2 linked regions of the Homo sapiens genome follow. The protein of the gene in region 1 purifies or fractionates together with the protein of each later gene. This does not show direct contact. Each region holds a gene or a part of one and is shown in the gene's direction. Other genes may lie near its edges. The genes, in order: HOXA3 and KDM6A.

Evidence for each region.
Region 2: the proteins of HOXA3 (region 1) and KDM6A purify together in Homo sapiens (affinity purification with western blotting, with the first as the bait; one study listed by BioGRID). This does not show direct contact.

Annotation. Positions count from the first base shown.
Region 1 is NC_000007.14:27,107,429-27,111,251, reverse strand, and holds part of HOXA3 (homeobox protein Hox-A3), read left to right. Parts: intron 1-491; 5' UTR 492-611; coding exon 612-1,137; intron 1,138-2,531; coding exon 2,532-3,337; 3' UTR 3,338-3,823. UniProt on the Homo sapiens protein: Sequence-specific transcription factor which is part of a developmental regulatory system that provides cells with specific positional identities on the anterior-posterior axis.
Region 2 is NC_000023.11:45,107,158-45,110,526, forward strand, and holds part of KDM6A (lysine-specific demethylase 6A), read left to right. Parts: intron 1-252; coding exon 253-379; intron 380-2,921; coding exon 2,922-3,092; intron 3,093-3,369. UniProt on the Homo sapiens protein: Histone demethylase that specifically demethylates 'Lys-27' of histone H3, thereby playing a central role in histone code. Demethylates trimethylated and dimethylated but not monomethylated H3 'Lys-27'.

The DNA of each region.
Region 1 (3,823 bases):
TTTTGGCAAACATCAGTCCTAAAGCGGAGAAAACATTGGCGACCCAAGCTCCCCTTTGCCTCCTCGTTCCCTTCCCAACATTCCCAGAGTGGAGGAGTCTTGGGCCCTCTGGAGGAGGCCAAGGAGCAGAAACTAAGCGACACCCCAAGTTTCTTCTTCCCTGGAAAAGAAAGATCCCAGCCTTTTTCCTTTCTAGCCTATCAAGCCTTTCTCCTTTTGGATCCCGGCTCCTGAGAATCAGCTTGCAGCCCTCACTCATTCTCCTTCTCCCCGGAAAATCCCCCAACTCCAGACGCAAGTTAAGCAAATATTTGTAGCTGCCAGTAAATTCCAGCGGTTTTTTATAGCACGGCTCCCTGCGCCCGGGGCCAAGTCGTGCTGCTAAATATTGCTGACCACTTTTTCTTTTATGGCTTTCATGTCACTTAGCTATTGAGAGTAAGATGGATTTGCGCGGAGCCCTCACCGCGCTGCGCTTCTCGCCCCACCAGGTCTGCGCGGGGCGGCCATTGGCGGCGGAGTGTCACGTGACCGCGGGGGCGTGCCAATGTGCGCCCTCACGGGTGTCAAACCCCTGTCAGAGTGTGCGATCAAGATCGTGAAACAACGCGATGCAAAAAGCGACCTACTACGACAGCTCGGCGATCTACGGTGGCTACCCCTACCAGGCAGCCAACGGGTTCGCTTATAATGCCAATCAGCAGCCGTACCCGGCGTCCGCCGCTTTGGGCGCCGACGGCGAGTACCACCGACCCGCCTGCTCCCTCCAGTCTCCCTCCAGCGCCGGGGGCCACCCCAAGGCACACGAACTGAGTGAGGCGTGCCTGCGCACCCTGAGCGCCCCACCTAGCCAGCCTCCAAGCCTGGGAGAGCCGCCCCTGCACCCGCCGCCGCCCCAGGCCGCGCCCCCTGCCCCACAGCCGCCTCAGCCCGCACCTCAGCCCCCTGCACCTACCCCTGCCGCGCCCCCGCCTCCCTCTTCTGCCTCCCCTCCTCAGAATGCCAGCAACAACCCTACCCCTGCCAACGCGGCCAAGAGCCCCCTGCTCAACTCACCCACAGTGGCCAAACAAATCTTCCCCTGGATGAAAGAGTCTCGACAAAACACAAAGCAGAAAACCAGCAGCTCCAGCTCAGGTAAAGGAGTGCCTTCTGGAAGAGGGTCCTCTGGCCTGGCTCCTGGTCCCCAAGCTACTGCCCACGACATCCAGCACAGCCTAGGAGCGATGGAGCATGTCTGGAATTCACTGCTCCCACACCACTGCCCACCAAAAAGGTTTTCATAGTCTTTGCAACTTAGGGAGGTGATAGGCCTCTGTAGGCTGGAAAACACCAGAGACCTGCTGGGAGTCCCTCTGGACTTCTCCAAGGGCAAGTAGGGTCTAGTGCAGTTGGAATCTCTTCTTGCTCCACTCTTGGAGTTAGGACCTCTGTGCAGAAACAACCTGAGCTCCACTGTCTATCTTTTTAGCACAGCTCTTCTAATGAAACAGTGACATCCTCCCCTTACTGAAATGTGGCAGAATAAAAACAGGCCTAATCACCCTCCAAGACAGAATCAATGCTTTGCCTATAATCAGAGCCAATTTTTGCTCCAGCAGATGGAGTGGCTGCCTTACCTCTGGGAAGACCCTACTCAGACTTAGTACAATGAAAGCAGCCAAAGATCTCCTGGGGGAGGGGGATGCAGACTTATCATCCTAATGGGAACCACATGGGCCTCCTGAAAGCGGGCTCCAGTAGAGGAAAGGCCCCAGGCTTTAGGCTTCCTAGCATTTTGGTTACCTTTGCCCCTGCCTTCTCCAGTTGCCAGTGCCCTGCTCTGAGCCTGAGCATCTGGGACTTCCAGAGCTAGGATCTGGGGGGCCAGGGAAGACAGAAGGGTACAAGATTAGTGGACAAAAGCTGGGGCTGGCTGCTTGATGACATAGGGAACCCTAAAGAATAGGACCTAGCATGAAGGGCCTAGGCCTCCCCACCAGAAATACCTTCAATGGGATCTCTTCTTTGGGCAGAGAAGGCCTTCCAGTTTGAGGTTTCCAGTCTGCCCATCTCCTCTGGGTAGAGAGAAAAAAGTGGCCAGTTGAAGCTACTGCCTAATTATTGTCAGACAGTGTGGGAGGGAAATGAGTGTGTACATTAGGTTTCCCACATTTCAGTTACTGTGAAGAGAATGGAGATGCTGAGACCGGCCCACAGGGAGGCTGTTGTCCGATAGGCCAAAGGGACCAGTAAATGAGTCAGAAAGTTAATAGCTCTAAACAGAAAATCCAGACCAGGAAGGCAAACCGGGGGTTCTACTTCTCTGTCCTTTCCCCCGAGAAGGCTGTGATTTGCTCCTTGGCTAAATGAGGGAGTATCACTGTTTTACCCACCAGGAGAGAGGATAGCACCTAGTTCCTACTTCTCTCTGGGACCTGACGGATGCAGGAACCTTTGGGGCCTGGTGGAAGGAGGGGCCGGGCTGGGTCAGGGGCTGGGCGGGGCCGCGGCAGCCCCTGACGCCGCTCTTCCTCTCTCTGTCCTCGCAGGCGAAAGCTGCGCTGGCGACAAGAGCCCGCCGGGGCAGGCTTCGTCCAAGCGCGCGCGCACGGCCTACACGAGCGCGCAGCTGGTGGAGCTGGAGAAAGAGTTCCACTTCAACCGCTACCTGTGCCGGCCGCGCCGGGTGGAGATGGCCAATCTGCTGAACCTCACTGAGCGCCAGATCAAGATCTGGTTCCAGAATCGCCGCATGAAGTACAAAAAGGATCAGAAGGGCAAGGGCATGCTAACGTCATCGGGGGGCCAGTCTCCAAGTCGCAGCCCCGTGCCCCCCGGAGCCGGTGGCTATCTGAACTCTATGCATTCGCTGGTCAACAGCGTCCCGTATGAGCCCCAGTCGCCCCCGCCCTTCTCCAAGCCCCCCCAGGGTACCTACGGGCTGCCCCCCGCCTCCTACCCTGCGTCCCTGCCCAGCTGCGCACCCCCGCCACCCCCACAGAAGCGCTACACGGCGGCAGGGGCGGGCGCAGGGGGCACCCCCGACTATGACCCGCACGCTCATGGCCTGCAGGGCAACGGCAGCTATGGGACCCCACACATACAGGGAAGCCCCGTCTTCGTGGGGGGCAGCTATGTGGAGCCCATGAGCAACTCCGGGCCAGCCCTCTTTGGTCTAACTCACCTCCCCCACGCTGCCTCGGGCGCCATGGACTATGGGGGTGCCGGGCCGCTGGGCAGCGGCCACCACCACGGGCCGGGGCCTGGGGAGCCGCACCCCACCTACACGGACCTTACCGGCCACCATCCTTCTCAGGGAAGAATTCAGGAAGCACCCAAGCTCACCCACCTGTGATAGTGGGCTTGGGGCTACGCGCCAGGAGAGTCTCCCCCCACCCACCTTTTTTCTTTGGTTGCTTTTTTTTTTTTTTTTTTTTAGGTTCTTCCTGCCCTTTCCTTCCTTCCTTTTCTCTCTTCTCCGCCCCGCACTCCGTTTCCCGGTTTCCCCCCTCGTTGGTAAGGCGTTTTTATAGTTTATGTGACGTAGCAATCTTGGTTGCTGGAATGGCTGTATCATAGCGATATTTATCTCTTCCTGCTCCTCGATAGGCCACTGGCCCTGCACCCTTTACCTTCTCCACTCTTTGATCAGAAACAGGGTATATGAACAAATTTTCTAGTCGAGTTTTCAATGTGAATTTGTTCTTACATTATGGCTCCCGAGGGGAAGCGATTACTTTTTTTAATTTTAAATTTTTTTTTTAATTGCACTTCTTGTAAAGAGTGAGAAAAAAAATCAAAGGCGCTTTGAAACAGGGGCTCTCTGTGCAAGGATGACTAA
Region 2 (3,369 bases), on another chromosome or scaffold:
TAAGACCATTATATTTTGATATCCAGATATTACTTTTCTCAACTTTAAATGTTTTAATATTGTCTTCATCAGGCCTGCTGAGCATTGTCATTTTAAAATCTGAGAATATTTGATAAATTGATGAAAGAAAAATTATGAAGTCATAGACATTAGAATCAAGTCTCTTGGCATTATTTCTAGTTGGTATATCTTTTATGCTAAAAATATTCAATATTCAGTTGCTGGTCACAAATAATTTCTCCCCCACAATAGGTATTGTCTTCTAAGAACTCTGAAGCAATGTCAGACATTGAGGGAAGCTCTCATTGCTGCAGGAAAAGAGATTATATGGCATGGGCGGACAAAAGAAGAACCAGCTCATTACTGTAGCATTTGTGAAGTAAGTAATTGTTTTTATCCACAGTTGTTTTATAAAGCCTCTTCCCTCTCCACTGTTGGTTTCTCTTTATTTTTAAAAAACTTTTTTATACTTTTATGTAATCCAGTTTATAGTAATTAACATTGGATTCAATTTTGTTGCTTAGCCATTATATTAAAATTCAGTGTGATAATAATGATATTTCACTGTGAATTAACCTTAAAAGTATCTACTGCAGAGTCATTTTTGTGGTAGATCTTCAACAGACAATAATCAGCAAATTTAGTCTGAGATTTTAAACTAAGAACAATCTAGATGTACACAGATGCCAATAAACTGGATGTTTGGTGTAACTCTAGGCAGATCGATTATCAGTCCTCTCTGGTGCAATTAACAATACATTTGTCAATCTTGTGTGGCCAAGGCTTGCAAGAGGTGCAGGAACAAAGATGTGGTGCCTCCTATGAAGGAGCTTAAATTCTACTTGGAGCAGACAGATTATAAACAACTAATTGTAATGTACATGAGACTATGATGAATGTGAAGTTGGACTTCCTGTTAATGATAACACTGAGGGGGAAAATGACCTAATTTTTTCTTCTAGTATTGGCATAAGAACTCACAAACGTATTAGCATTTGAGTCCATCCTTGGAAAAAAGAGTATGATATCAAGTAGACTAAAAAAGTGATGAGAATCGGAGGTAGACTGTCATGGGCTATAGGCACAAGAAGAGAACAGGGAAATGAAATGGTTTTAGAAAAGGTTGAATGTGTTCCGATTTGGCTGGAACACAGACTGTGCAAATTCCGCTCATAAGTCTAGGTGGCATTTAATTTATAGCACATCTTGAATGGTTTTAAGGAATTTGATATTCCAAGGTTATTGAAGCCATTAAAAGGTTTTGAGCAGGCAACTAAGGGTAAGTAAGATATGTGTTTCAGGGAGAAAAGTGGTTGGAAAGGACAGCGATATATAAGCTATTGCAGTGGTCTTAAGAGTTATGGGACTGTAAACTAGTTCAACCATTGTGGAAGTCAGTGTGGCGATTCCTCAGGGATCTAGAACTAGAAATACCATTTGACCCAGCCATCCCATTACTGGGTATATACCCAAATGACTATAAATCATGCTGCTATAAAGACACATGCACACGTATGTTTATTGCAGCATTATTCACAATAGCAAAGACTTGGAACCAACCCAAATGTCCAACAATGATAGACTGGATTAAGAAAATGTGGCACATATACACCATGGAATACTATGCAGCCATAAAAAATGATGAGTTCATGTCCTTTGTAGGGACATGGATGAAATTGGAAACCATCATTCTCAGTAAACTATCGCAAGAACAAAAAACCAAACACCGCACATTCTCACTCATAGGTGGGAATTGAACAGTGAGATCACATGGACACAGGAAGGGGAACATCACACTCTGGGGACTGTTGTGGGATGGGGGGAGGGGGGAGGGATAGCACTGGGAGATATACCTAATGCTAGATGATGAGTTAGTGGGTGCAGCGCACCACCATGGCACATGTATACATATGTAACTAACCTGCACAATGTGCACATGTACCCTAAAACTTAAAGTATAATTTAAAAAAATAATAATAATAATAAATAAATAAATAAATAAATAAATAAATAAAGTACCTGTAAAAAAAAAAAAGTTATTTTAAGGCCTAGACTAGAACCTGGCAATGGGAATATTAAAGAAGGGAAAGAATTCAAAAATATTTAGAGGGTAAAATCAGCGAGACACCTCATTAAATGGCAGAAGTGGAAGGACAAGTTGAAGAATGCTCACCAATTTTCTAGCTCAGGTCACTAGGTTTGTATTGCTGCTTGTTGACAGTAATGGATAACATGGTGAACTCTAGGATTGTAGTTAACTGTTAAAAGAAGACATGGGATCATAAGAGTTTTCTGTCATTGAAGAAATTTAAGGATAAGCCAAAGACAGGATGTTGATGGTCCATTTCAAACCTTGAAATTCTGTAATTCTAGCATCAACCTTTATTTGAAATGATAGAATCCATTGATTTTTTTTTTAAATGTCATATGGCCTGACCAAAGTGAGTCATTAGGAGATCAGATAGATTCCAGTTAGGTGTGTTGTTCCTTATCCTACCTGAACCCTAGCAACTCATCAATCTTTCTGTATAAGATAGAGGTATTATTTCTAAAATCATGCTGTACTCATGAATACATAAAAATGATCACTTATGTCTGATTGTATACTAATGTTTTAGATTTAAAAATAGGTTGACCTTTATCAAACTTTTGAACTGGGCTTTGCCAGTGGTTGTCATGAGTATGTCATTCCCTTTGATTATTCCCCTAAATATGCATTACTACCCATGTCTTTGGATTTGGTGCAAAATAAACCTGGTCTGTTAAAGATTCTCAAACACAGCCATGTTTTTCTTACCACCTACTCTTAACCAGAGATCACTGTCCACAATTTCATTCAAGTAGAATTCCATGATTATACTAAAGCAGTACAGTAAATACCACTATCTCTATTGAATACGTTTTTCTCTTGTATAAAACAGGTGGAGGTTTTTGATCTGCTTTTTGTCACTAATGAGAGTAATTCACGAAAGACCTACATAGTACATTGCCAAGATTGTGCACGAAAAACAAGCGGAAACTTGGAAAACTTTGTGGTGCTAGAACAGTACAAAATGGAGGACCTGATGCAAGTCTATGACCAATTTACATTAGTAAGTCAAATCAACATGTGAGTACATAGTTAGCTGGGTTATGAAGCAGCAGTGTTTGCTCTGCCACCTGATAAGTAGGAGGTAATGAAATATTTTAAATTTTCCTTTGGCTCATTATATATTGCATGAGGGTATATTCATATCATTCCCCCCTCCATTTCCAAGTATTTATTCCTATAAAATTGGCATATATCATTTTCAGTTTTCCTGGGTGAGACCAGCCTAAATAATTTTACAACAATTACATTTAAAAATCTTTGCGTGCTTTAGATAGAAC